Linked DNA regions of Homo sapiens: all the other regions are linked to region 1. The links come from fine-mapping of genetic effects on gene expression. A gene starts in region 1. Each other region holds a variant in brackets. All regions are shown on one strand. Distances are between the middles of the regions.

What was found.
Region 2: its variant is fine-mapped to the expression of LAMP5 in whole blood (TOPMed, PIP 0.94).
Region 3: its variant is fine-mapped to the expression of LAMP5 in whole blood (TOPMed, PIP above 0.99).

The regions. Positions count from the first base shown.
Region 1 is chr20:9,508,135-9,518,521 of GRCh38, forward strand. LAMP5 (lysosomal associated membrane protein family member 5) reads left to right here and starts at 6,456. Exons shown (of 6, transcript NM_012261.4): 1 at 6,456-6,782; 2 at 7,319-7,491; 3 at 7,866-7,997; 4 at 8,122-8,227; 5 at 9,906-10,094. The coding sequence starts at 6,719. LAMP5-AS1 (LAMP5 antisense RNA 1) reads right to left here and starts at 6,864. Exons shown (of 5, transcript NR_109957.1): 1 at 6,630-6,864; 2 at 746-1,031. RefSeq lists enhancers at 3,023-3,072, 7,391-7,975.
Region 2 is chr20:9,546,314-9,556,700 of GRCh38, forward strand. All of the region lies in intron 7 of PAK5 (p21 (RAC1) activated kinase 5), which reads right to left. Among named protein-coding and RNA genes, the nearest start is that of LAMP5-AS1, 37 kb to the left of the region's middle. The variant C/T (reference allele first, on the strand shown) is at 5,740.
Region 3 is chr20:9,442,061-9,452,447 of GRCh38, forward strand. PLCB4 (phospholipase C beta 4) reads left to right here. Exons shown (of 40, transcript NM_001377142.1): 31 at 1,921-1,970; 32 at 2,118-2,183. Among named protein-coding and RNA genes, the nearest start is that of LAMP5, 67 kb to the right of the region's middle. The variant A/G (reference allele first, on the strand shown) is at 5,944.

The DNA of each region.
Region 1 (10,387 bases):
GCCTGGACTGCCTGCGCGCCCTCGGAGCCCGCCTGGTTGGCAGTCTCTGCTTCGATCTCCTCTAAGCAGAATCTATTTTCTGTTTGGAAAATCTCTTACAGGTCCTGGGGTTGTCCCAGGACCAAACTGCAGCGAGGCCGCGCGCCCCTGGCCCTGGAACGCAGCATCCTCCCCATTTTACCTGGAGGCTAGATCGTTGGGGCTCTTCGGGGGAATTTCCCTGGGCACGGATACTGTGCTGGCGGTTTAGAAAAGAAAAAGAAAAAGAAGCGAAGCCTCTGTAACCTGGTCTCCTCCCTCTCCTCGGTTTAATACCCTGCCTCCCCTACTAGTCTCCAGGCTTTTCTCTGGACAGGGGAGGGACCCGAGAAGCCCGCGGCCAGTGATCGCCAGGGTCTGTCTCGTCGCCCATCCTCCCCGCCCCAGAGCAAGGTCGGCAGAGGCTTCCCGGGGCATAAGAACTTCAAAGAAAGTCTCAGAGGAGCCACGCTACCAGGAACTTTCGTCGCCCTTTAAAATTGTCAGATAGACAAGTAAAAACAGTAACTAACTAAGGGAACAATGGACTCTTGTGACATGTGTAACTCTTCCAGGTACCCCAACACTAAAGACCCCGTGGTTCCTGTCGCCATGGCCTGAACGTACTCAACTCCAGCCCCGGGGCTGACCTCTCTCCCTGAGCTTTGGAGCGGGTTTGGACCTAGCCGTTGCAAGTAGGCATGACTTTTATCACCCATCGCTATACCCAGAGCAGCTGCTCGAATGTGCCAAGGAGCCCAACTCGGGTGCAAAGCGCCGACGTCTTTCCCAGGTTGAGGACATCGCGAGCCAGAGGTGCAGGCAGCGAGGCGCCCAACAGTAGAATGCATCTTCCTTCCCGCGGGCAGAAGCCGTCAAGTCTGGAGTCCGCAGCGGGCGCGCGGGCCAGCCCAGGGATACTGAGCCATGAGCAACCAGGCCCACCTACCGCCGCGCCATCCAAAGGTAACACCACAGACCACGGGCCATGTGTCCTGAGCAGCGCACACTTCCTGCACGTTCAGATATTACATGTTAATAATGAAATTCCGAGCACCCCACCCCCCATCAGCCAAAGGATATTGCTCAGATTACTTCCCTACTCAGATCACTCAGACTTGGGGCATGTAGTTCTGGAGGTATCCTTTAGGAAAGCTATGTCGAAGACCAGAGAATTGAAGCCACTCCTTCCACATGTTGTCGCTACTAGAGTAATAAAGTCATAACTAACATATCGCTTCTTATACTCCCATCCCATTTGCCTTTCCAATACACTCTCCCTTTCCCACTACCTTGTTACTAAAACATCTTGCTATGCTTTTACAACGAGAGAGAGAGAAAAAACAAAGTCCTAAACTTACAACATCAGAGCACCCCAGGGAATTCCAGGACTCCAGCTACAATGCAAGCAAAGCTTCAATAGGAGACAGTGGGCTCTGGGCTCCACTCTCACCCTCCTTCCCAAAGGCCATTAATATAAATTTTCCTTAGTTCCAAACACATCTTCAAGTTAATATGCAGATAACTTCAGATAGACAATTAAAAGAGTAATTTGCCGGTCACAGTGGCTTACACCTGTAATCCCAGCACTTTGGGAGGCCGAGGCAGGCGGATCACGAGGTCAGGAGTTCGAGACCAGCCTGGCCAAAATAGTGAAACCCTGTCTCTACTAAAAATACAAAAAATTAGCCGGGCATGGTGGCAAATGCCTGTAGTTCCAGCTACTCAGGAGGCTGAGGCAGGAGAATAGCTTGAATCCAGGAGGCAGATGTTGCAGTGAGCGAAGATTGCACCGCTGCACTCTAGCCTGGGCGACAGAGTGAGACTCTCAAAAAAAAACAAAACAAAACAAAACAAAAAAAAAACAGAGAGAGAGAGAGAGTAGTAACCAAGGGAACAATGGACTCCTGTGCCATCTCAGAGATTTTGAGGGTACTGCATTATCACAGAATTCAGGTAGCAAAATATGTTAAATGAGACACAGCTAGTCTAACCTTAGGCCTATTGTGACAGATGTCATTTCTTGGAGAACAGACTCATTAAAGATTTTTTAAAATCCTCAAATGAGTTTTAATTCAACCTTACAGAAAGGTGCCCTGCCCAGAAGTTAACAAGGTTTTCCTCCCTCCCGAGATAGCAGAGTGAGTTGTGTATCACTGACCAAAAATGTAAGACTGACCAGAACAGTTAACTAATCACGGATTCAAAAGACAAAAATGATTTATTTGCTACTGAAATTTTGAGGAATGATTACCTGGCCCCTCACCATTTACTTATTTAGGGTTTGCTATAAGGATGCAGTTCTCTATATTGCCCCATGCTGAAGGCAATTCTTCTAAATGAACTCATAAATGGTATTTTTTTCAGGACTTAGTGTGAACATAGCCAATAAAAAGGCCGTTATTCTGGTGGTTTGTTTCCTCCACTGGTTACCGTTATTGCAGAAATAACCATTGTTTCATTAGAGTAGATGCAGGAGACACCAAAGAAGCACTAGGATGAGGAAAATTACACCAAGGGCATGCAGACTGAGTGCATTGGAGCCTAAACTCAATTTTCTGATTCTTTCCAAATATTCTAGGGCTTAGCAATGTATGTGCGAAATATTCTTGTGCATACATTGCTCATGCGCACACTTATTTTTGTACTCTTTGCTCTGGATCTAAACCCTTGTGGGATAGAAACTGAAAAATAATTCTTGTGCATACATTTATTTTTCAGTTTCTGTCCCACAAGAGTTTAGATCCTAGAAAGGGTTGCGAAGGTCTTTGAAGGCAATGACTAAATGAATTAATTGTTCTATGATAAGCTGAACACAAGAAAAGTTTTGGTGAGTAGAAAGTCTGGCTTAACAGCTGCATGCATCTTGTTTGTTTAAATTATTTCTGCTTCTGTTATTCGGGTGTGCGTCCGTTGTCTGTGTGTGGGTTGCAGAGGGATGGCTTGGTGGCTGTGGGAACAACAGAGCAAGGAGTACATTTTTACACTTTACTGTAAAGTGAACTGAAACCTCAATAAACCAAATTTCAGCTGCAACAAAGCCCAGCCTTTTCCTTTTGAAGCTATAAATACGCTTTTCTTATTAGTATTGTTCACTAATTTTCATAGTTTTGTTTCTTGATTCTACAAATACAAGTCAATTGCTTGCACAACCAAGTATGAAAAGATGCCCCTAACAACTTAAAAAGTTTAATTTTATTTAGAATAAATTTTGCATAGGCCATTCTTTTGCATATGCCATATGTGGGTAAATTATCAAATACGGAAATGAAATAGGGGTTCTATAGTACATAAGGCATTGTTGATTTACGGCCTAATTTGCTTTTTATTGCAAATGGATAAATATGGATGGATGAAGAGTTACATCTTTGCATTGATTCCCTATTCAATAGATATTTCTTCCATCCGTATCCTTCCTTCCACCCTACATCAGTTTGTCAACTTCTTTCAAGACTCACCTTCTCCAAGAGACCTTTTTTCATCAATTTCAACCACTCTCCCACCTGGGATGCCTGTCTTACTTTTTTTTCCCCCTGAACATTTATGCAGACACTGTGCTAGGCTAACTGGAATCTTTATGTAAATTCTTCTCATCCAAATTGAAAGTTCTATGCAAGGGCCTCTTCTTGCCCTTTTATAAAACAGCAACCACTCAATGGCATGAGATTCATAAAGGCTAATTCAGTAAGTATCCATATGAATTGAAAAACAGCCTTTGAAGGACCTAGAAGATCTAGAGGAGATCCCAAATCCAGTGTGTTTAGGTCACACTGCACCCTAACAGTTTCTACTGACCACCAGCAGCAATAATAAAAATTGACACAGTTACCACCCACACAGGTGTACATATTTATGTCAATTTCTCCTACCATCTTTTAGACTTGAGAAATGAAAAGTAGAGCAAATTCTGGGGAACATTGTTAATATATTAAAATGCAATTTAATGGCAAATTTTGCTCCTTGATCACTTCTTTGCTTATTTTAGAGAACCAAAGAGTTTTTTTCCAGAATGATTAGAAAGATATTTAATTAATGTAGGTGAAAGTTGTAGGTATAATGACCTAACTCCTATTGCAATGTATCACAGTGGATAAGATGATAAATTAATGGGCATTTGTTAGCCATGTTTAAGATTAAATATTAAAAAAGTCATTAAACTGATTGTGCTTTGAAAATAATCCCCCCAGAAAAAAAGAGTTAAAATTGCTTTCTTTCTTCTTTCAACCCATTTGAGTACTCTAGGGTACACTCTCCAGTGTCAACAAAGAGATCATTTATATCAGGTATAATTTTCAAAGGAACAACCATCTCATTTGTAAATCAACTACTACATTTTAAGATCAATGACCAATGCTACTACTCACCTAATCTTTTATTATTAAGGCAGATAATCATGAATTAATTCAGTTGATCTTTTAACAACTTATATAGTGAAGATATCTGCAATAACATACTGCAAGAGAAATTGTCAAAATCTTTTATAGGTGTCTCTCCTACTTGTGTAATGATAAATATCTTTTGGTTTTCAAAGCATCAAGCATACTGGAAGTAGTAAGTATTCGGTTAATGTTTATGGATCTATTTGTACTTTGTTTATTTATACTCATTGGCCCATTTGGTTTAACTAGCCATCCCCTGAGTTATTTTCCCAATTTTTCAGATGAGAACAAATAAAATCTTCAGAAGGTCACAAAAATAATAAGTAGTGAATCCTGGACTGAAATCTACTCATTTCTGTCCTCATAAAATACTGGAGAGAGAGAGAGAGAGAGAGAATAAATACTTTATTACATGTCTCATTGTTTTCCAGTTTTACAGTACTACAGGAAAATAAGTGTTTAATAATAATTGCTAACATGAAAAAATGTAACACATACAAATGTTATCTCTTCCACTTTCAACTGATGAGAACTGACGTTTTATCAATCTTCTGTATAAAATCATTTCTGTTAAGTTCTGTAAAATTTGCATCAATTCTTCTATATATAATCATCTTTGTAAAGTTCTTGAGAAATGTTTGGATGAAATACTGAACTACAAACATAAAAGTCAAGATGTCAAAATATAATGTCAATTTTAATATTACTTTATACTTTGAATTGCTAGTGATCTAATGATTGATATAGGAATATGTTTGAAAGCCAAAAACATTATATAGATACTTTGTGGCAGATATGTCAGAATGTGATTATACTTAAAACAGCATTCTATAAATTTGAAGAATGTGAATTAATGATAGAGATTTCAGATTTCAGATTATTATTTGATATTGAATATAGATTTTTATGGAAGTCAAAATATGGAGTAAAAATATTATATAAGGAGAAATGAAGATAATCTCACAGAGTTAAAGCATGTGATTTTTGTATTTTAATTCTAACTGACCATGTGACATTTGGGAAGGTCATTTAATTTATTTGAGCCTCAGTTTTGGGGTATGTAAAACCACAGTAACTCATATCTTTCCTTGCCTACCCTCTAAGATTGGGGAGAATCAAATTAGATAATGCAGGTGAAATACTTTGCAATTTTCCCTTTAATATGACATTGTTTTATAACATTATATTACTGATGCAACATTTATTTGCATTATGAAATATCTTCTAAGGAATAAAATATTTGGACATCACTACAATTGATGAGGACTGCATGTGTATTTTTGAAAGCTGTATTCTGATTTACAGAGCAAAAATAAAAAATAAGCAAGCTACCAAATATGTAAATACAGGAATTAGCCCAGTAGTATTTGTTCTTCTGTTCCACTACAGGCTTTAGAGTAATATCAGTGTGTGTTTTTCTTACATAACTATGTGACATTACTTAGGGCATAATTCTAAAATTTCTGTCCTAGGAGACACTAGATAACTCTCAAAAACTTCTGATTTGCTTGCATCCCTTTTTGGCAGAGTGGTCACAGTATAATGCGGGAGGGTAGGTGACCCCAGAGTTCAGAGTCCTCATGCACCCGGGAGCAAAATTCACAGGAAAATAAGCCCACATGGAGCTACTGCATTGTCTGATGGCCTCGTTCGAGGAGGCGTCAATTTAACTTTAAACCCATGAGCTCATTGAGAGCAGGGGAGAGAAGGGGATGTCTCCAAATTCAGGAAACTGTTGCCATAGCATTTTCCCTTCTCTATTCCTGCATAGCCCTCCTCCCCCGAATCAGCAACAATTTTTGCTCCACCGTTTTCTTTCGGGAACCAGATGCGTTTTCAGAAGACAGTACTCCAGTGATAAGGTATCTACACCACTTAATAACTGTACCTGGTAAGGAGATTTAATAAGGCTGAGGGTGGTATTAAGTTTCTCAGAACAGACTCATCTTTGCGGATGCAGTTGCAGAACAGGAAACAGACCCAGGGAGAAGTTTAGTCCCCCCAGATCTCATTGGCCCTCCGCACAAGCCAAGCCACAGCCACTCCTGCCACACAATCGGATTGCTTTCAGCACTCGCAGCCGTGGACCGCCGTGCGGTCCTTTCCTCCGCAGTGAGCCGATTTGCTCTGCCAGCAGCTGTCGGTGCCGCGCTCGACACCGAGTCCTAGCTAGGCGCTCACAGAATACGCGCTCCCTCCCTCCCCCTTCTCTGTCCCCCGCCTCTCGCTCACCCCGGCCCACTCCAGCGGCGACTTTGAGGGATTCCCTCTCTGGCGGCCTCTGCAGCAGCACAGCCGGCCTCATTCGGGGCACTGCGAGTATGGATCTCCAAGGAAGAGGGGTCCCCAGCATCGACAGACTTCGAGTTCTCCTGATGTTGTTCCGTGAGTAGCGATTTGGCGACTGGGAGAGAGGACGGGCACTCTTTGCAGAGAACAGAGCCGGCAAAGTAAAGTCAATTAGCTTGAGATAAAAAATATGGCCCTTAATGTTTTGCGGTGTTTTTTCTTTTTTTCTTTTAGGGGAGGAGGGAGGGCCTTCCTCGCCGGTGGCAGGGAATTCCCCTGAGAGCCATACACCTCTGTGGCATATTCCAGACAGAGCCTAGACAGGCCAGCTTCGTGAGGTCAGAGCATTGGCAAGAAATATTTACTTTAAAATCCCAAGATGTAGAAAACAGCCAGCTATATTACAAACAAAGTCAGGATTTTTAATTTTTTTAACTGTATTTTCATTATAAATTAACAGCGAAGGAATGAGGCTTGTTAGACCCGGGTTAGAGAAACGGCTCGTAGAGCGCACAGCTGCTGGCAGAGAACTTTGTCACTCCAAAGCCTGCAGAGCACTGTCTCCCCACCCTAGCGCCCGAGACGCGTGGGCTGAGCCCTGAACTGATGGAATTGTTTTGTTTGTTCCGCAGATACAATGGCTCAAATCATGGCAGAACAAGAAGTGGAAAATCTCTCAGGCCTTTCCACTAACCCTGAAAAAGATATATTTGTGGTGCGGGAAAATGGGACGACGTGTCTCATGGCAGAGTTTGCAGCCAAATTTATTGTACCTTATGATGTGTGGGCCAGCAACTACGTAGATGTAAGGAATCTTTCCCCCCCCTCAGCTTGCTCCTAGGGCTCCAGGGCGAAGGGCACCCTTCCTCAAGGCTCTTCGAAGACCTGGGTTGCCCGCCTTCTTTCCCACACCCCGGCAGGCTGCTCCCGAATGCTGCATGGGGATTCCAGCTTGTAATGCCTTCTGTTCCCCTGCCTGCTTTGAAAGTAAACCCCCTTCTCTCCGCTTCCCTATCGGGGCTGCACGTAGAGCATCTAACCGCATGTTCCCGGAACCTGGGATGCGCGCGCGCAAAGGAGCGCCCAAGCGTGCAACCCAGAGTTTGGACGCGCCGCCCTTTACAGCCCCCGCCCCGGGGCCGGGCGAGCTGAGGGGGCGCGGGGCGTCTGTGTTCCCAGCTGATCACAGAACAGGCCGATATCGCATTGACCCGGGGAGCTGAGGTGAAGGGCCGCTGTGGCCACAGCCAGTCGGAGCTGCAAGTGTTCTGGGTGGATCGCGCATATGCACTCAAAATGCTCTTTGTAAAGGTAACTCCGAGCCCAGCGGGCAGAGGGGCCGCAGGCTCCGCGTGGGTGTGGGAAGTGGCGGCCCCTAGGTTTAAGAACCCAGACGCTGCGGGGACGATTGAAGCGCACCTCCCCGGCTCAACAGGAAAGCCACAACATGTCCAAGGGACCTGAGGCGACTTGGAGGCTGAGCAAAGTGCAGTTTGTCTACGACTCCTCGGAGAAAACCCACTTCAAAGACGCAGTCAGTGGTGAGTGGAGGCTGGCATGGCTGGGGAGGGAGCCTGGGAACTCGCAGAACAGGCTTGGAGAGAGAATTCCTCAAGGTTTTGGAAACCGTCCCACGCTTTGAGGTCCCAGGCCAAGTCTTCCCTCGGCTTGCTCTTTAGGGCGGAAGAGGCGGGAGCGCCCATGAGTCTTCTGGGTCTCAGGCCTTGTAGATCCGCCAGGAACCGCAGGCGTGGGGACCCAAACGTCACCCGTGGCCTGATCCTAGATAAGAAGTCCCTTGAAGGCCTGTCGTTCCCTGGTGCTTCAAAACGACCTCTTATGATTTGGCCTTTGAAGGACCACGGAGAAGGGCAAAGCTGCATTTTAATTTTCTTCCGCATCCTGGTTTTGTTTCTTATGCGCTAAAACTGCAAGGGGGCAGTGCGACTTTCCTTTTCAGTCAGGATGTGATGGCCTTCAGTGTCTTTTTGCGCATGGCAGCATGGCTCGCACGGGATATTCAGTCATCGACTGCAGCTACCTGACAGTGGATTCTGCACCATGTATAATTTACTAGCGTTTCTGGCCCATCCCTCCGACAACTCAGCCAGATCCTCCTCGGCAAAACGAGCGTTCATCCCCCAAATAACAATATTCCTATCTGCAGACACCGTCAAAGACCACATTTAAATTTATTTTATTCTTTATAAGTTGTCTATTTCACTCATAATGAGGCCCTTCATCACCCAGGCACCTGAGTTGGGAAAGGATTTTTATTGAATACATAAAAATACATGTGTCATCTTTCCCTTTTCACCCCTTTTTGTTATCACAGTAAAAGGAGGATTTTTTCTTTTTCATCAAAGTTTAGATGCAAGATGTCCCCCAGTTAAATTAGACCAAAAAGGAAAAAGGAAAAATCAAACTTAGGTCAGAAAAAGAGCAATGGGAGGCAGACCTTCAGAGGGGATGTATGTGTGTAAGGACAAGCATCCAGAGGACCAGCAATCTGTCCGGCTTTGTTGAGGAAGATGTTTTATTCTTTGCCAGGCCCGTGTGAAATGTGGAAAACCAAGTCACTGTTCCTTCTGTGTCTTTGGAATCTCCATTATTAGGGATTTTTTTTTTCTTTTTTGAAGTGCGGTCTCACTCTGTCCACCAGGGTGGAGGGCAGTGGCACCACCATAGATCACCACAGCCTGGAGTAAGCTACTGGGCTCAAGAGATTCTCCCACCCCAGTTTCCCCAGTAGCTGGGACTACAGGCATGTGTCACCATGCCAGACTAATTTTGTAAATGTATGTGTGTGTGTGTGTATTTGTAGAGACAGAGTCTCACTATGTTGCTCAGGCTGGTCTAGAAATCTTGGGCTCAAACGATCCTCCCACCTTGACCTCTGAAAGTTTTGGGATTACAGGCAGGATCCACCATGCCCAGCCTAGGTTTTATACAGTAACAAGGGTTGGGTTTTTAAGTATCATTCTCCTCTTCAAAAAAGGAGTTCCAAATTAATATTGAAAGAGCCCTGGCTCTCAAGATAATGGGTGTGTTTGTCCTTCATCACCACTTGATGCCATTTGTAGAGCCCTAGCCCTGGCAAGGGAACAGAGAGGACAGGAGGGGTGTGGTGTCTGGAACTGAGAGGCAATAGCCAGCTCTCTGGCACATTAGGTTAGGAACAATGAGGGTTCTAACTATTGCTCTGGGCTCTTGCTGTAGCTGGGAAGCACACAGCCAACTCGCACCACCTCTCTGCCTTGGTCACCCCCGCTGGGAAGTCCTATGAGTGTCAAGCTCAACAAACCATTTCACTGGCCTCTAGTGATCCGCAGAAGACGGTCACCATGATCCTGTCTGCGGTCCACATCCAACCTTTTGACATTATCTCAGATTTTGTCTTCAGTGAAGGTAAGTTGTTGGGGGATGGAGGGGAAGAAGACCTAGTTTATTTCAGGAAGGATGAGAGAGGGACCTACCAGGGCCCCAGGATGTTACCACTTGGATTTCCTCTAGGTTGAAATGACACTGCCTGCCTCTTTAATAATTTTCAAAGACTAAAAAAGCAGTAAGCTGAATGTATGAACTTATCTCAGTAGTTCTTTCTTTCTCCCTCCCAGCCTCCTCCCCGTTTACCTTCACTTTAGTCCTTTCTTCTCAGTCTCCCTTTGTTTCCTCCTTCTTCTTTTCTTTACCTTCTTCCC
Region 2 (10,387 bases), 38 kb after region 1:
ATTACTGACAGCAGTACACCTCACTCCTAATTTAGCATTAACTGGAGTTCAATGTGTTTTTTTAACAGTTTAAAAATTTACACAGTGTGAAATGTACACACTTTAGGTTTATCATGTGATGAGTTTTGACCTCCCAGTACTATCAAGATCTGGGTATTGCCATCGCTAGGGTAGGATGAGAAGGTCCTTGGGATATGAGTGGTAGTGAAACCCTTGAAGGGCCATAGCATGAGAAAAGAAGATGGTCAAATATGAAATACTGGGCACCTAGGGTGATCGAAATTGAGGCATTACAGGAGACCGAAGAGAAAGACATCAAGAAATCAGAGAAACAACGGAGAATAAATTGGGAAAGCCAAGGTAGGGATAGCAGCAGCTAGGACACAACAGGGAGATGAAACCAGGTAAGAACCGGGAGTTGCTGTTGTGCTCAGCAATGAGGGCATCCCTAGTAGCCTCTAGTTTCAGGTTGAGTCAGTGGTGGAATACAGAGAGCAGTCAGGTAGATTTCAGTCAGAGTGCTTTTCAAGAAATGAGATGTATTTTAATATAGATAGAAGAAATCCAGCATTTACAAACGTGGTGAATATGATAATGATGACAATGATAATTATTACTATTCTCTACAGTGGGTTGAATATCTCCCAGAATTCACATCCATCCAAAGTGCAGAATGTGATCTTATTTGGAAGAGTCTTTGCAGGTCTAATTAGTGAAGGTGAGGTCATATTGGATTGGGGACAGGCCCTAAATTGCATGACTGATATAAAAATAGGAGAGGACACACAGACACATAGATAAGAAGACCATGTGAAGGCAAAGCAGAGACTGGAGGGATGAGTTTACAAGCCAAGCAACACTGAGGATTGCCACAACCACCAGAAACCAGGAGAAACGTATATAAAACTTCTCCCTCAGAGCTTCCAGAAGGAATCAACACTACCAAAATCTTGATTTTGGACCTCTGGACTCTTGAATCATGAGAATACATTTCATGCAGAGAGAAGAAAATGCCACTCAATTGGTAGCAATTTGTTATAGCAGTCCTAGGAAATGAATACACTCACTGAGCTCTTACTACCTGCCAGGTAACACTTTAAACACTTTACATGTATCTCATTTGACAGCTCCCAAGAAACTAACGAGGTAGGAAATATTATTATCTCCATTTTACAGAGAAGTAAGCCAAAACACAGAAGTGGTTAGGCCACTTTGCCAAGGATACAGAGCTAGTAACTGGAAGAGCCAGGATTCGGGAATTTAACCACCACTCTGCTGCTCTGAAGAGCAAAGTTACAGGCTGAAAGAAGGGAGTTCCCAGAGTGGTAGATGTTGAAGAAAGAGGAGAGAGTGAGGATAACTGATGACAGGGTTTTTAAAGCATCCCTTCAGGAGGGATGGGATGGGATCCAAGGTCTTGTTACTTAAAGCATCATCTTCATCAATAGCAGCAGCAGCAGTGTCACCTGGGAGCTTGTTAGATTTTCAGAACCTCAAGCCCCACCCCAGACCTACTAAAGTCAGTTTCCACTTTAACAAGAGCCACAGGCTGTTGGTATACACATTATAGCTTGAATCATAGATCACAGTTCAGTCAAGAAACAGAAGAGGGAGGAGGTCACATGAACAGGTGGGGATAAGGGGGCATTTGTTTGCACAGAGTCTAATCTCTTTAGCATACTGACAAAAGCCTTAACATTTTCACCACACCCCATCTTCCTACTGCTGGCGCAAACACACGAGTCCACCTGAATGGTTTTTAAAGCCCTCTGTAATCTGGTGCCTTTTCGTGTCGCCAATTTTATTCCTCATGGCTTTCTGCACACACTAAAACCATTCCTAGGGACCAGGGCTGTTCCTAGAATGTAGAATATCCAGGGCTAAAACCCAGAAAGTTCTGGGCAAATCAGAAAGAGGTGGTTATCTTATGGTCCATTCCCAACTCTGAGTTTTTTTGATGATTTTTCTTGCATATTCAACTCTTAGGTATACATCAAGGGCTTTATCAAATCTAACATCCTCCAGAATTCTCAGGAGCCCACGTTGATCACTCTCTTTTTTTTTTTAATTTATTATTATTATACTTTAAGTTTTAGGGTACATGTGCACAATGTGCAGGTTAGTTACATATGTATACATGTGCCATGCTGGTGCGCTGCACCCTCTTTTCCAAATTCAGAGAATTTGGCATGCACTCAATCCTGAACTGTTTTCTGGTGCTGATTTTCCATCTCTAGCTAGAGATGACATTCCTTGGGGACAACAACTCTGCTTTCTGATTGCAGAGCCTTACTGTGTTCCTTAAGAGTTGGGCAAACAAACAGCAGAAACTCAGAAAACAAATGCTACTAGATTTATTTTATACTGACACACATACATAATAGTATACCAGGTGACAGAAGACACATTGAAGCTCTTTCTGAAAACATCTGAAGCACACTGAAGATAGCTGTTGCTAGAATCAAAATTGGAACACAGATGAAATGAAAATAACATTTTGGAAATTATTAATGTGATTTTTTTTCATTTCCTTGTTCATGATATTCTCACTAATTGGCTTAAGGCCAGTGATTTGGACCAGTGGTGGTACGATTTGAATTGGAAGGGATTAGATTATTCCCAAAGAAATGCTAGAGAAGCTGGTTTAGCAGAGAGGTGATATTCACAATTTCTTATCAAGAATCAACCCCAGAGGACTCAGATCATAGAATTTCACATGTAGTATGAAAAAAAGGGCCTTGTAGTTGTGATACGTGGTCCATAATCCATGGTGCCCTATTATAAGAGGAGTCGATAATGCACAGAAGTAAAAATCCTACAGTCCACCCCTTGTAGTCTGGGATAATTTGCAGAAGGAGAGAAAGAGGAGTGATGTTGACTATGTCAGGTCCCGGCCTCCTTATGATATATCACTTTTTTTCACTCCAAGCAGATGGTGGTGGGCTTTGGAAATATCTGTGTTGCATACATCCCCATACAAATAAGGGAGAGGAGAAGCCCCACAAGCATGTGTTCAGAGGTAATATTCAAAATATTCAATAACCAGATTAACGTAGGCCAATTGGAACCTAGATAGAAAGTCAAGCAAAGTCCTAGAGTTACCCTGGGAAGGATTACCATTTTTAATGAGGTGAGGAGGGTCTTGGGAAGGGGCTGGAGTGATGGGGGATAGCCTAAGGACTTAAAGCAGTGGCTCTCAACCAACTAGCATGAAAATCTTGCAATATTTTAAAAACAGGTGTAGACATGCTGGTAAAACTGATTGAACACCAGCCTTGGCCATACCCCGTGTGAAAGGAAAATAAAAACTCAGGACGCCAATTCATTCTGCCAAGAGGAAAAATTGAACTAAACGCTGAGTCCTGCAAGAAGCTACCTTCTGTTTTGTTCCTAATTAGACAGCTACAGGTCATAGGTAAATACCTCCATAGGTAGTGACTCTATGTTCACATCATATTCTGTAAAGTGCCGATTTGCTGAGCATGAGATCAATACATAATTGACAGTTCTCCTACCTGCTCCTTTTCTCTTGCAACAAGTGGATGACCATACCCTCCCTCTTTCCCCTCCAGCTCACTTTTCCCCTTTCCCTCAAACTAACCTTTGGAGAAAGGCACAGACCACAGACAGTTTCTATGAATCCATGTTTTTCATTTCTTCTTCTTCTGGACATGTCCTTAACCTTGGTAAAATAAACTTCTAAATTGATTGACACCTGTCTCAGATACTGTTTCGTTTTACACCAGCATGTAAAATGTACTCCATGGAGACACGGCGCTATAGTGTGGGTGGAAGTGAGCTTGTGGCAATGCTACTGTCTTCCATGGCCTGTGTGGGATGTGCAGGGGTTCGGAAGTTCCTCCAAATCTCAGTGAGGGAATGGGGAAGGGTCTGGCACAAGCCTGTGATTGGGACAAGGAGGCAGCCTGTAGGGCACCTTTTCACCCGTGAGTGAAGAGGCTGCAACTGTGATGTACAGCAGAGGTGAGCCCCTGGACAGCCCAGCCACCAGTAGGACCAGTCAATCTTGCTACCTGGTCACCAGTCCAGGTAGCAGGAGAGTCCAATGAAAGCAAGGCAGGGAGGAGAAAGGAACAAGAAGATGCTTCTTATCTCCTTCACCCTGAGGTCCCACGAGCCATGCTTGTCTTTCCTCCCACACTCCATCTTGGGAATAAGTGAAGGTGGAGAGGAGAGGAGGGAGTAGGTGGTGGTTAAATCTGAAAGACTGGGTTTATAAAGGTATCATTTATACCTCATAATAATGTAGTTGACTTTGATAGACAATGTTCAAATCATTCAAGCCAACTAAATTTAATGCATTGAATTAAAATAGATATTTTTAAAAAGAATCTAGCCAGTAGGACTCTGTGAAGAAGTCTGGGTTAGTTTTAGGAAGCATAGAAACCATAATTGTGGTGTGTGTGTGTGTGTGTGTGTGTGTGTGTTTATTTCCAAAACTAGGGTGTAAGTAAATTTGCAACCCCAATACACAGAGAGTAGAGGAGGAACAAACGTTCCAGTTTTGTTTGCCTATAAATTTAAGAAACCTGAATGGTTAAGGAGGTGAATGTATCAGCATTTTGCTATTGGCAGTTTTAAATTTCAGTATATCTAGTGTGGGTTTCTCTTTGCTGGCAGGAAAAATGCCCAAACCCCTCAAAATCTGGCATCCTAATAACCATCTCCCTGACAAAATGTGAGATGAGCAATTGAAACTCGACACTTGGAAGTGAGGCCTGTTCTGCTGCTGTAGGAGTATAAGTGCTTTTGCATGATACTTTAATCATCCAAGTACATAAAAGGGACAATTTTCTAAAAGAACATAATTGCACACAACATTTGTCCAAATAAATCTGCAAGTAGATAATGAGAACTCAAGTAATGAGTACAATAAAGCACTGTAGGCAGATCTTAAAAGCAAATCACATAGACGCTAAGCTGAGCCTTACTTTGGGTAGAATTGTGCAACTGGGCTGCTTAGGAAACCACCTTCGTCTCACTAATGCAGTTAGGCTAAGAGAACTACCACTAGTATGTTGTCCGCCCCCTAAAAGGAGAAAATGTAGCTTGTTACACAAGGACCACACAAGGAACTTTAGTTTAGAACTCAGACAAAGCTGCAATTTAAACATGAGATCCTATCCATCTCTCACGTGTCCTGGCCAGGAATCAGGGTTCCCACAAAAGAATGGTGGAGGGTTGGGGGCTAGTGAGAGTGGGCAAAAGAGAGTCTATCCACAGGGCAGCTACAGGTTTAAAGATAGAATGTAAAAACCCTTGCTCTGTAAACTGCATGCACTCTAAAGAATTCTGTGTCTGCTCTAGGGTCTTGGCTAATGCAAAAGGGGGCTACTTGTGTGCCTAGTTTCTGGGTGCTTCTTTGTAAGGCAATGGCACTCAGTGTACAATGTATGTAGCATCAGCCTCACCTGAGAGCCTGTTAGAAATGCAGCTTCCTGGGTACCACGTAGCCTGAGTGAACCAGAATCTCTGGGGTTGGGGCCCAGGAATCTGTTTCTTGTCAAGCTTTCCAGTGGGTTCTGATGCTCAGTAAAGTTAGAGAACGTTATGGAAAAAGCAGATAACAGTGGCCAGAAAAAGAAGTCTTCAGGCATAAAGATGCAGATGGTGGCATTTGGAGGTGAAACTAATGATCACTGAAATAGGAAGTTGCAGGAAGATCTGGGCAGGGCACCAACGGCATTTGCTGTGGTACAACTCACCCTCCTTATACCA[C/T]TTCCCTTATCATGATGTGTGAATCCAGGCACAGTGTTGCCAGACCCTTTGATTTTTCAAGGAAGACAGGAATCTGACATTTTATATGACATCTTCCAAGTTTTGATTTGTGGCAATCAATTTATAGTAAAAAGAAAAAGAGATCACAAAGACCACTTGTGTGTGTCTCTTTTCCATAAACTTATTGGACTTAGCGGGTCATGGGTTTGAATTCCGGCCAATGAATTTGTCAAAGTCAGTCACTCACTGCTCACTGGCCCCTAAGTAATTCATTTATCAAATGTTGGCCCTAGGCCAAGGAAAGGTCATGATGATTCTACACAACACTTAATTACAAGGGCAGAGGAAATGCCTTCTGACTTAGCATCTACCTTGTCCCTGGTATACTTCTGAAGGTTTTACACACATTACATTATTCATTCCTAAGCCACTCTGTGAGATACTATTTATTTTCCTCTTTCAAATCCCAAACACCACATTCTCCCTTCTTAACACAAATTAGTGACTCGTTAGATATTACTTATGCCATAGATAATAATTGAATGATTTACTTTTAGTTGATAAAAGATAATTTATCTAGTCTTTTGAGAGGACAGAAAGCATTCATTCTTTCAAACCTGAGCAATTCTCGGTCATTTTTCCTAACTTTAAAAAATTTTTAAAATTTTTTAGTTTTTTTTTTTTTTGGCGACAGGGTCTCACTTTATCACTCAGGCTGGAGTGTAGTGGTATGATCTTGGCTCACTGCAGCCTTAAACTCTAGGGCCCAAGCAGTCCTCCTGCCTCAGCCTCCAGGGTGCTAGGACTACAGACAAATGCCACCATATCCAGCTAATTTTTTAGTTTTCTGGTAGAGATGAGATGGGACTTCAATATGTTTCCCAGGTTGGTCTTGAACTACTGGGCTCAAGCAATCCTCTTGTCTCAGCCTCCCAAAGTGCTGAGATTACAGATGTGAGCCACCACGCCCTGCCAACTTTTTAATTTTTAAATAATGATAAATCCACAGGAAGTTGCAACGTGCACCCGTCTCTCCCTAGTATTCGCATCTTACACGGCTACAGTACAATATCAACACTTGTAAATTGATTAGGTCTAATTTATAGAACGTATTCAAATTTCATCAGTTACAAATGAACTCATTGTGTGTGTAGTGTATATAAGTATACTCTGAAATTGTATCATGTGTTGCCAACTAGTCAGCTAACCAAGGGAAGGCTAGTTACCCGGTGAGTTACTACGGTGGGCAACTAGAGCTTGATCCTGCTGAAGAAGTCTGGGAGACTGTGTAGAACAGTGCAAAAGTCATTGTGGTTTTTGCCACTAAAAGTAATGGCAATTACTTTTGCACCAACCTATTATAACCACCACCAAAATCAAGATACCCAACTGTACCATCAGCACAGGACTTCCTGGTGCTGTTCTTTACAGACACATTCCCACAGCCCCAAAACCCTGCCAACCACTCATCTGCTGTGCATTTCTATAATTATGTTATTTCATGAGTGTGTGTGTGTGTGTATATATATAAATATATGGAATCATATAGTGTGTATCCTTTTGAGATTGGTGTTTTCTCACTCAGTATAACTTCCCTGAGGTTCACCCAAGTTCTCGTGTGTATCAATTGTTTGTTTTTATTGTTAAGTGGTATTCCATGACATGGATATATTAATACTATTTGTTTAATCATTCGCCCTTTGAAGGACATTTAGGTAGTTTCCACTTTGGAACTATTATAAAGAAAACTGCTATAAACATTTGTGTACATGTTTCTGTGGGAAAATAAGTTTCCATTTCTCTGGATAAATGCCTCAGAGTGCAAGTGATGGTCGTATGGTAAGTCCATTTTTAATTTTGAAAAAGAACTGCCAAAGTATTTTCTTGAGTGGCTGTGCCATTTTAAGTTCCTATGAGCAGTGTATGAATAAGTGTTGTTATCACTATTTTTCATTTTAGTCATTCTTAAATGTGTGCAGTGATAGCTCATTGTAGTTTTAATGTGCATTTCTCAAAGGCCAATGATGTTGAACATCTTCAAACAGGAAGAGAACCCAATATCTCTTGTGTGGCAGACAGTATTTTCCAAAAATGCCAACAATAATTTTGCCTATCCCATGAGCTCTTCTTACAATATGACTTAATTTTTCTCACACTGAGGAGGACTCTAAACCCCTGCCCCCTGAATCTGGAAGGGCTTGTGACCATGGTGAAAGTAATGTTATTTGATTCTGAGGCTAGGTTATAAAAATGCCATGCACTTCCACCTCGTTTTCTTGGGACGCACTCTTGGGACCCAGTTGCCATGCCATGAGGAAGCTCAAGCCACATGGGGAGGCCACCTATTTTGTAGGTGATCTGGTGGCAGCTCCAGCTAGCCTGCCTGGACTGACTACCTGACATGTGAGTGAGGATGACTTCCAGATAACTCTGGCCCCAGGCATTATCTAACCACAAGTCAGAGCAGCACTGTTTTGCTGAGCTATAAGAGACAATACTAAAATGACTGTTGACTTAAGACTCTAAATGTTGAGATGCTTCGTTATAACAGCAATAGATAATTGAAAAAGTCTTCTCCACTATATAATGTTGTACACTAATAGACTCATATAATAACACACTCTAAGCCTTTTCTTGGAGTAGCCACACTCCATTTCTGCTCTCTTTTAAAAGAAAAGTTTCCTTTTCCTACAGATACTGGAGAAACCACTGGAGTCAATATGATGCACTGTTCTGAACATGAATGAGTAAACTCTGGACAAAATGGCCAAGAGGCACAAGATCCACTCAATATGCTCTTGCTTCCTCTGCCTGGAATGCTCCTGTTTCTGGCAGCCACAGGGTCCAGTCCCCCATGTCTCTGCTGTAACGCCACCACATCAGAGGGATCTTCTGACCAGCCTCCATAAGACAGTACCCATCACTTCCATCACTCCCCATTCTCCTTACCATGCCTAAATTAATCCTAGGAAACTTAGTATTTATCACCCCTTGTTTGGTGGGGATTTTGTTTGTTTATTTATCTATTTGTTTATTATCACATTCCCAGTCCCCAAATAAGCTTACTAGAGGAAGTGATTTTGCTTTGTTCATCCCTAGGATTTAGAACTGTCTGTTACACGTAGCAGACATTCAGCAAATGTTCAGTAAATGAATGAGAGAACAAACCAATAAGGACTAAAAGCATCTACAATGTGTCTATTTATGTGAGCTCTTTACAGGGTGCACAGGGATGCAGGAGGTGTTTGAGACAAAGGTTCTGCTCTTGAGAATGACAACTCAATGATTTAAAAATCTTGCACATTGAGGGGAGGGGAGATCTTTAAGTAATTTGATTAAACAATGACTTCTTAGTCTCATTTCTGATTTTGATACTGGATATGATCTTACAGCAAGGAAGCCTGTACCATAAATTTCTAGAAACAGGGAAAGAAAGTCTTTCTTGAAATTGCTCTGCTAGACCAGTTTAATGCTTTGCAAATTGCATTCTGACACCGTGGAGCCTTGCGTAGGTGCTTTCCGGAGTCAGGCCAGGGAGGATTCTTGACCTTTTCTCATAGCTGTCCACTCATATGGAAGATTAAGAAAAAATGCATACACAGTCTTCTTCTACCTGTATCCACATCCCTTTGCAATGTGACTTGGCATCTTCTCCTATCAAGAGGCAGAGTTTATATCCCTACTCCTTGAGTCTGGTCTTGAATATTTAGTAAATATAATATAAGCACAGGATTTGAAAGGGCCTACACATCAGGGCTTGCCTCCTTTGGTGCTCTTGGGAACTTTGCTACAGGTATCATGTGAGTAAGTCCAGGTGACTCGGAGATGAGTGATACTTGGCCCTGTTACCTGCACTGTCCCTGCTGAGAGCCAGCTGACTGCCAAGCAAATGAGTAAGGCTATCACCATAGGCTGATCACAACTGCAAGAGGGAGCTCAGCTGATGTCACATGATGCAGAGATGAGCTGGTACAGAGATGAGTTGTCCCAGAGGAGTCAGCACAAATACTGGCTCAGAGATAAGTCAGCAAATAAATGGTGGTTGTTTTAAGCCACTAACTGTTGAGTGGATGTAGCAAAACCTGACTGATACATGCTTCTACTGTACCGTTCTTTCTTAAGAGAAGCAATGCAATGGTTAAAGCAATGCAAAAAGCAGGACTTAAAACTCCTCATTAAACACATTCCCAAGTTTGCAAATTGTGTATACATGTACATGGAAATACGGGAAAAATCGGTAATGGGATTAGGAGTGATCTTTGTCTTATCCTCTATACTTTTCTGAGTTTACTACATTTTCTACAATAATATTTACAATCTTTTTAAAACAACAAGAAAGAAAAGCCAAAGTGCTTGGACAGTTTCTTCTGGCTGCCCTCTGATCATTCCTGGGCAATTTCTGATATGACATGAACATTTTCCATGTGGCAGGGGTTGCAGGTGTAAAAGACAGGAACATCAAGGGAATGGTTGGCTCCATTCATGCCAAGGCCATTGCCTCTGGTGGGAGTTTCAGGGGGCTCCGGAGAGCCTAATGGTATAGAGCTATGCTTTGAAACTCTTCCATTTAACTAAGCCTTCCTTGGAATGTCAACTGGTTATTTCCTTGGCTGTTATATTCCATGCTCTGTGCCCTGGTGTGGCTGAT
Region 3 (10,387 bases), 66 kb before region 1:
ACCCAAAATGTGCTGCCTAACCTACTTTCATACCAGGGAAGCCTGTAGACCTGCACAGTCCTATATAGTAGCCACTAACCACATGGGGCTACCACTAACCACATAGGGCTATTTGAATTTATTTAACAATTAACTTAAAAGTTAAACCTTGAGTTCCTCATTCACACTAGCCACATTTCAGGTGCTCAAGAGCCACAGATGGCTAGAGGCCGTCAGTTGGACAGACCCACGCATGGAACATTCCCATTATTGTGCAAAGCTCTATGAGGAAGGCTGTTCTTGGCACGCAGATGGAACTGTCCTCTTCTGTAGAGTGTGGTTTTTTTTTTTCTAACTAAATCACTTATGGGAATCAACATTTTTACAAATTGTGTCTTTCCCCCAAAACACAAAACCAGGTAGTTGAGGGAAGTTTATGTTTTTGTAGGTTCCTTTTAATCAAGACTTAGTTGAACCAAGACAAAAAGAAAATAAAAATTGAGAGAGAGAGTGTAAGTTTCATCAGACTGGGTCAAACTCAGAATTTGCTAGATCTCTGGAGGACCTTGCATACTCCCCAAATCCTGTATGTTCATTTTACAGATGAGAGAGCTGAGGCCTAAAGACAGGGAGCTCTTTGTGTGCCAGGAGTCACTCCCTTGCCTTACCCTGCCTCAGTCACTAGAGAGACAGCTTGTGAAAGCCAACTTAGGAGATCAGTAGAGAGCCCCATGGACCCTTTATACCCCGATCATAAAATGTTACAGATCACAAGGCTGATTTCCCTCAGCCAAAACTTTCCTTCTGCGGCCTGACCACCCTATCATTGAATGTGCACATCTTAAAATGAATAAAAGGGAAAAACAAGAGCCTGGGACTTGATGCCTATCTTTCTTGAATATATCATACCTAGCCTTTGGGATTCTAATGGAAATCAATTACAGCACAGAGTACACATTCATTTTGTTTGCCTAAGATGAAAATCTGCAGTCAAACAGAAACTGTTTGAGGATCTGGCTACAACTGTTGTTGCCATGACAACACCTGGCCTAGCATCACTCAGATAGCAGGATGACTTAGTGTATTACCCTAGCTCCTCCTGGTATGCTCCTGTTATACACTGGTTTGATTTTATTATTTCCTGTATGTTTAAGGCATTGCTGTGCTCAATAGCACATTGCTTAAATGCTAAGATTGAATTTGGTAAAAGGGAGAAGCCAGAAAAAAATGTTTTATTCTTTCACAATGACTGAATTGAGAATAGAGTTGGGAATTAGTTGACTGGCATGATATGCCTTGAAATACAAAGGTAAGAATAAGGATAATAGATACTTTTGTGCCTGATCAGCTCCCCTTTATGGGTTCACTATCCCATCTCACAGCTCCTATGAATTTTGGCTGATTGGGCATTTCAGCTGCCCTTCTCCATAGAATTGCCCTGGGACCATGAGAGTTCCCTTGCCTGAAAGGTTTTGTGAAACCTCTGTAGCACTCAGCTGATTGATCCAGGGTTACAAATGCCCAGCCTCTTTTTGCCAAGGTGGAATGACTCTTGGGTGCCATTTGTACTGAAGAGCTCCCTGCAGGATCAGACTGAGGCTGGATTTCTACTGGAAACACACCCTACCTTGTTCCTCTGCCCTGCTCCACTTCTTTCATTCCCTTAGGGGTTTCTCCTGAGAGTCTGCCCTCAATCAATCACTTGCACATGAATCCCCTTCTCAGGCTCTGCTTGTAGGAAACCTGACCTAAGTTAAGACATTCAACATTTCAATTGTCCAGTTAATTGCTTTGTAATAGGAACTTAAGATGTTTATATTCATCATATGTAAAGCTGCTTCAAAGTCTTTCGATGAGATTTCGATATGTCAGTTCTATATTACCAGTTATTCTCTCTGATTTTTAGTATACATAGTGACTTAATTTTTTTTGTTTGTTTAGGTATTGAACTTATCCCTCAAGTAAGGATAGAAGACTTAAAGCAGATGAAGGTAAAATTGCTTGACTATTTTGCAAGCACTCTTGTATTACACATATTGGTGACACCAATATATTTTTGTTTCTCACCAAGTGTAATCATTGTGATTACAAAAAGAAAAAACAAAAAACCTATTTTTGATTCTATTTTTCTCCCAAAGGCTTACTTGAAGCATTTAAAGAAACAGCAGAAGGAGCTAAATTCTTTAAAGAAGAAACATGCAAAGGTACAGTGCTCTACAGCTACTATTTTGTGTTATGTATGGATGAATCATTTGTAGCCAAAAACACTACTTTGAAGCTGATACCAGACCACTTAACAGTAATAACTCATTCTAACTGGTTAACAATGAAATTAAAAAATAGAATCGGTTTGGGAGTGCTTGTCACTTGTTTGTAGTCTGCATTTCTAACAATTCTTTCAAATGCATAACAAAGCTTCATCCATTTAAAAATTGTTTCACTAGGCCGGGCACAGTGGCTCACGCCTGTAATCCCAGCACTTTGGGAGGCCAAGGTGGGTAGAATAGGATGTCAGGAGTTTGAGACCAGCCTGACCAACATGGTAAAACCTGTCTCTACTAAAAATACAAAAATTAGCTGGGTGTGGTGACATACCCCTGTAATCCCAGCTACTCAGGAGGCTGAGGCAGGAGAATCGCTTTAACCCGGGAGGCAGAGGTTGCAGTGAGCTGAGATCGTGCCATTGCATTCCAGTGTAGGTGATAGAGTAAGACTCCATCTCAAAAAAAAAGAAAAATTATTTCACTAATAACATGACTATATAAAATATTGAAGACCAGCTCACAATTCTAGCCACTAGTTACCTAAATTGCCAGGTCACTGTCACATAGTTTGCCATACACACTGGTGCATGGAGGGAGATGCTAGCAATCTGTCAACCTCCCACTCACAGCACCTAGAGAGAGAACACTTGTCACTTTTTCTCCCTTATGTAAATCTTGCCCAGTAGCCTACTTCTGAAATAGATTTATTTTTGCTTTTTACCCATAAGAAGTGGTATTTTGACAGTGATTGTGAAAAATTACAAGAGCTAGTTGCAAATTGTAAGAGAACAGCAGGAGGTGGCCCCAGGAATTCTCCTGTGGGTTGAAAAACGTCATGGCCCTCAAACATCGTCACTTCCAGACTCCCTCACAGGTAAAGAAGAAAAAGGTAGTACCTCTTTCCTTCCTAAGAACATATAATAACCAGCTGCTGCTGGTAGGATAATGTCTGTCCTCTTTTATTAAGGGCAATGAGAGCAAGAGAAACTTAATTTATAATTTATTAATTTGAAAGAACTTCTGAGTTCTTTTAAACTAATCTTGCATTCCTGTTTCTTTATTCTCTGACCCAAGCCTCAAACCAAGGCATGTCCTTCAGAACTTGGCTTGAGTGATGTACCTTTTAATCATTCCACGTATTGAGATGCCGAGAACATTGTCTGGAACCCTGTCCCCTGTCATTTCTTTAAGAGTTTGTGCTAACACTGATTTTTTGAGAAGTCATTTCTTTAAGAGTTTATCCTAACACTGATTTTTTTTAGAAGTTAGGCCTAATCTTATCCTAGTAATGTTCCCTGTATTACAGAACTGTTGGGCTCAATGGATTTGCTGATACAGTCACTTCACTTCAAAGACTGTTTCTAAGTTTCATGAATAATTCCATTCAGTGAAATTCCTTACATTGCTCAATGGGGTTATTGGAGACAGAACAATTTAAAGTAGGGGCTTCAATGTTGTTGGTTATTGACAACAGGCTGAACTATGGAAAGCCAACAGAAAAAGAGTAAGAATGAGAAATAAGAGAGAAAGCACCTTAAATGACTTTAATTATTTGGAATAGAGTGGATGCCCGTATGCTGCAGCACTATCTAACAGATTTTTCTTGCATTTAAATTGGATCTCTTTTATTGAGCAGACACCTCAGTGGCCTTTGGGCTAGTTGGAAACATAAAGATTTTGGCTTCATTTAATATTTTCTTGAGGCATGGCCAGAAAATATGCTGTGGCGGGTGGTAATAATAGCAGCAATAATAGCAGCTAGAATTCCTGCATGCTCAGTAATTCTCAGATGCTGTGCTCAGCACCTTATATGCATTGTCTCATTTAAGACTCTACCCTGTAAGGTAAATTCTATGTGAGTCTCCATTTATATGTGAGGGAATTAGGAATTAGTGAAGTTATCTGATGTCCCAGAGTTAGGAAGCAGCATAGCTGATATTTGAACCAAAATCAAGAGTCCAGAATCCATAGTCTTGCACCATACTCCTGTGTAGGATATGGGATGCTCACTAAGTGGACAAGTTCCCTCATTGGGTCAAATGCAGTGACAGCACATGGGACATTAGGGAAAATCACTATCAACTTTGGGCAGTGTTGATATACTGCTGATTATCAGGACTGTGACTAAGGAAGGATGCCCCTCAATTTTTAGAACTTAACCTACATCAGAGTTGTCCATTAACTCCCTGGAGCCATCATGCCCGGCCCAAGCTAACTTCTAAGATGAAGAATATAATGAATATTTACTTGCCTAATATACACCGATGCCAGCTCTGTTAACATATTGTCTTTAGGCGAGACATGGTGGCTCATGCATGTAATCCCAGCACTTTGGGAGGCCAAGGCAAGCAGATCTCACCTGAAGTCAGGAGTTTAAGACCAGCCTGGCCAACATGGCAAAACCCTGTCTCTAGTAAAAATACAAAAGTTAGCCAGGCATGGTGGCAGGTGCCTGTAATCCCAGCTACTTGGGAGGCTGAGGCAGGAGAATCACTTGAACCCAGGAGGCGGAGGTTGCAGTGAGCTGAGATTGTGCCACTGCACTCCAGCCTGGGTGACAAGAGCAAGACTCTGTCTCAAAAACAAAACAGAACAAACAACAACAACAACAACAAAAACATGTTGTCTTTAAAACCAAAAAATGAAAAACTGTTTAAGGAGAGGGGAACAATGTGGTGAATCTATTACCATTGGACATACTTCATGCCTGATCTCCATATGACGTGTTTATCCTAACACTGATTTTTCTGTCAGTCAACACTTTTAAAGTGGCAATACTAGCTTGTACATATTGATACTTGCTTAAGCACATATTCTTAGGTATTCTCATAACAGTTATATAAAGGAGTACTATAATTATATGAGTTTTGTATCTGTTAGCTTTTGCAGGGTAACAAACCACCCTAAAATGTAGTGACTTAAAACAATGACCATTTATTTGGCTCACAATTTTGTGCATCAGTAGTTGGAGCTGGGTTTAGCTGGATGGTTCTTCTGGTCTCAGCTGTATTCACTCATGAATCTGCTGTTACTACCAGTTTGGTTGGCAGATGGGGGACTGGCTGATTTAGGTCAGCCTCTGTTAAACCACTTCCTCTCTGCTTTATGTGGTCTCCTGTCTTCCAGCAGGCTAGTCCAGGCTTGTTCACATGGCTGGGGTCCTGAGAGACCAAGCAGATCAAGCATAGTTTCTTGTGGCCCCAGCTCAGAACTAACACACCATCACTTCCACCTCATTTTTTGGCCAAAGTAGGTCCTAAGTCTGGCCTTATGAGGTCTCTACCTTTTGACAGGTGACAAAGTTACATCAGAAGTGGGAGTGGATGCAGAAAGGGAAATAACTGTGGCCATTTTTATAGCCTACCGGCTATTCAACAGATTAGCTTATTAATACTTAAAAAAACACAGCTTCATTAAATCATCTAGTTTTTAAGTGGTGGAGTCAGGATTTGAACCAAATTCAGCCCGGCTTGAGAACTCAGACTTGTAACCACTATACTCAGCTGCCTCTGATGTTTCTCACACTAATTTTTCTTCTCTTCACACATCTTTTTCTTTATGGTCTCACTAACAGGTTTTTAAGAGCAATCATGAACCTATCAGGGCACAAATATCTTGGGTTCCTTCAGGACTGGTTTTTCAACATAAGGTCATTGGGCCAAGAGCTGGAGGCTTTACAAAAATATGTATTCTTATGCCT[A/G]TCTGACACTTAGCTATCATCTCTAAGAAAAGAATATAGGAAATACAGAAATACATTTTAGATAAACTCCTCTCCTCTGCATGCTAAATTTTGAGGACTGTTTTTTTAGGAACATTATGTAGCACTTTTTACTATCTTTTGAGCCCTTAGTAGAAACCCCACTAATCGCCTGCAAAGACACTTATCAAGCCTCCTTAAAGAAACAGAGGTTTTATCCTCTTGCCACATAATAGTAAGAATTAATTCCTACATCCTTTCTGTGAAAGGACATCTACAGCTCTTTTATAATAGTTTTCAGCCACCCAACATGGAGCTAAGGCTTACCACCCCAAAGCCTTATGTCATAAAATGACCTGCTGATGAAGAAATATGACCTGGGCTGCACTCTCCCTACTAGTGTGCCCCTGGCCCAAACAGCCCTTGGTAGCTAAGAACAGGGACTATTATTTAGTCTATATCCAGCAACTGTAGGGAGATCTCAGCTCTTACATATCAGCCTAGATCAAGCTTGTCCAACCTGCATGCAGCTCCCAGGCCACATGCAGCTTAGGATGGCTTTGAATGCAGCCCAACACAAATTTGTAGACTTTCTTAAAACATGAGATTTATGCACAGACTTTTTTTTTTTTTTTCTCTCATTGGCTATCATTAGTGTCAGCGTTTTATGTGTGGCCCAAGACAATTCTTTTTCCAATGTGGCCCAAGGAAGCCAAAAGATTTGCCACTGCTGGCCTAGATAAATAATTCTACTTTTTAGACTTAAAGAGAAGCAGAGAATCTATGAACTATATCTCAGCAGTTTAAGAAATAAATGTATGGTCCCAAGGAGAGCTTATTTCCAAACTTGCAGGTTAGCTACCAGATAGAAAGGAACAGTGGGGTGAGTGTGAGGTTCTGCCATTTGCAAATAGGTGTGCAATTTGCTGTTAGGATATTGAGAAGAAAAGATGGGGGTAACGACCATTTGCACCCCAGATGGATATAAAAATGCTCATTAAAATGTCTATTTTTGGAAAATGGCAATGATCAACTGCATTTGACCCTCTGAATGTACTGGCAATCAAACTTCTACTTGTCTCATACTTTCTAGAACCACTTCAATTCGAAATGGAAACTAGGGTAATGGTTTTTCAAGTGTCTATTATATGAGACACAGAAAAAGGAGAATTAATTAACAATAATCCTCCCCCAGCACATGACTCATTGGGATCCAGAGCTGCAGTTACTTTCATTAAGAGACAGGCATGCTTTTCAATTGTCCAATGAGGTCAATTCCTTAGAGCCAAAAATGTAAAACCCAAAGTTGGATACATATCTCCAGTAACGTGTTAGAAGGGGAATTACAATTCAAATGCCTATGGGGTCCAAGCAGGAAGTAGCTGAGGGAAGTTGGACAGGTGTTGACTCCATAAAAGCTGGGAGCACTCATCTCTATCCACAGGCCAAGTCAGTCTGAGCTACCACCATTGGTGCCTGGAGAGTAGATGGGTCAGTCGTGTCCTCTTAAAGGAGAGTCAAAAAATCAGAAAGCTTATCTGAATTTCCTGATCTTTTACTATCGGCGTCTAATTCAACCTCTTTTTGAAACTGCGTAGGAAAAAACAAAACAAAATCCAAAACTAAAAACTACATCTGCAGGCAGGATACATTCCTTAGGCCACCAGTTTGCAGTATCAACATTAAATGAGTCAAATGAAATGCCTGAGAAGCCTACTAAACTCTGGCATTTTTAGTAAAGCTACTGATGGAAAATTTTCTCTTTGCTATGCAAGCAATTTAGCCGACAGCACCAAGACTGTTGTTAAACTCATCAATTTTAATTCATGGTCAGACCTTAGTACCAGACCTATAACTTAGTTTTGCAGTGGAAAGGGGCAGAGACACAGCAGTTGCCCTCAGAGTCCGCCTATTGGTAATCTCAGAGTTACATGCTGAGCAAACATGATTTACTCCAATTTTTCAGCACCCTCTGTGGTGCGATCATTCACGCCCATAGTCACATCAGTCACAAGAATGAATTGCAGCAGCAGTTTTCCCCAAAAGAAGCTGAATTTACTCTTAACTTGGATAAGAAACGTACACAAATTCTTCTGAATGCTATACATGTTTTTCCCCAAAATGTCCCAGTTAAGATTTACTTTAAGTTAACACATTTAATTTTGGTACTCTTGGCTTGAATGAATGAGAAATGTATGTCTCTTCAATAGTGTTTCATGATTTAACTAAGGACCAAAAGAATAAAACCAATAATGGACATTTTTTTTAAGCTAAGATGGACTTAGAGATCATTTCATGCCTCCTTCATTTTACAGCACAATGAGCTGAGACTTGACCAGAGTCACATGGAAATCAGTAATTAGGATCCCCATTTCTTTCTGAAAGGACAAGTGGTGTCTGGGAATCAAGTTATCCCAAAACACTTCAGCAATCACTGCCTACCACACAGGGATGGAGTTTTGAATAAAAAGAGAAACAGAGACAATTTTTCAGGACCAGCTTTCCTGTTACTGACATTAATTATAGTCACTTTAATTCAATATGCTTTCAGTTTTTCAAATTATTTTTGCATATGTTTAGTAACCTTGCATCTCATAAGCAACTCATGAATTCGGTTAGGCAAAGGTACCTAACTCAGTTTTCTTTTCTTTTCTTTTCTTTTTTTTTTTTTTTTTTTTGAGATGGAGTCTTGCTCTGTCATGCAGTGGCATGATCTCGACTCACTGCAACCTATGCCTCCCGGGTTCAAGCAATTCTCGTCCCTCAGCCTCCAGAGTAGCTGGGATTACAGGAGTGCACCACCATGCCCGGCTAATTTTTGTATTTTTAGTAGAGTTGGGTTTTTGCCATGTTAGCCAGGCTAGTCTCGAACTCCTGACCTCAGGTGATTTATGCGCCTCAGCCTCCCAAAGTCCTGGGATTACAGGCATGGGCTACTGTGCCCAGCCCTAACTCAGTTTTCTAATAAAGACATTGAGGCCTGGGAAGATTTATATATGTTACACAAGGGCAGTTGTTTAATTATTGGCTGAGCTGGGACCAGAATCTAAGTCCTCTTGCTATTTTCCTATGCTGACTTTTTATTCATGCGATAAATACTTATTGAGCATATACTTTGTACCAGGCTTTGTGCCATGTACTGGTAAAGAGAAAAGACCTGCCCTGCTCTTGTAGAGCATATTACATAGAGTTGAATCCATCATAAACAACTTTGTGGTACAAAGAGCCCTATTCCTCATATCTAATTGGATTAATAAGGTTCACCAAAATATTTTCTTAGGAAAAAAATCTGTGTCAATTTACATCCAAGCCTCAAAGTCTCTACTTGTCCTGTTCTGCACTAAAATATTTAAAGAAATAGCCTTCACCCTCCTTTCAATGATATTTGCAAGATAATATAGGACTGTGGCACTTCTGATATATTTTGAGACCTGCAGAAAGCCCCTTATTTATTTAATTTTTTGCCCAGGAAAAATTAACACATGGGTTAGCCAACCATAATGATTTCTAAATCTTAGAAAGAAGACTAGGAGGAGGGCATTTTAGTAGGTACCAAAGTATTACAAGAGTAGTTAAATACATTCAGGGATACATCAACATGTTCCTCTATTCCTGGGGCAGTAGATCAAGCATGGAGGAAACATTTATTGATTTAATTAGTCTGATTGATATCCCTATCTCAAGTCACTCTCTGTGTGTTATCATGGGTATTGAATAGTATAGATAGGTTTGTATGTCACTGTGTTTTGAATAAGCTGTAACACACATTTGATACATTAGATTCACTTTTAATCCTAACAACCCTATGAAGTAAATGTCACTATCCCAATTATAAAGATGAGCATACTCTGGAAAGGTAAGTGACTCACCCCAGCACTGAAAAACCCATGTCCTTAACCCAGTGCCACATTGCAGAAGCTCTGGAGGAAATGTGTTTATAGCACAAAGGTGCACACACATTGGTAATATGGCTAGATTTATGGGGCATTCCAATTACAAATTAAGCCCAGATCCACAGCAAGCCCACCTAGCCTTTGTTCCCACTGTAAGTTCCTATGTTGGGAATCTCCCTATCCAGCATCACCCTTCTCCACTCCTTCTCCTAAAGACAAGAATGCTGAGGCCTTGTGCATGAATGCGTTTCTAAAGAATTTATATATAAATGAATTGTAGATCAAGTCCTGTGTTAAATCTCTTAGCTGGGAAATTAAGGAAGTCTTGGTAAAGACTTAAAAATTCCTTCCCCATTTATATTTTATGAAACCGTTAAAAGAAGTTCATGAATTAGATTTGCATAAAGTCAAGCCTACCTTAGAAAGAAAATAAATTTGCTTTTAAATTAAGGCACTATTTTCTTCAATAAGTGAAAGGAAATATGACGGTGAGAGGGGTTATATAACCTGAACAACATGTACACCCATTCCAGTCATGAATAGCATCCCATTTT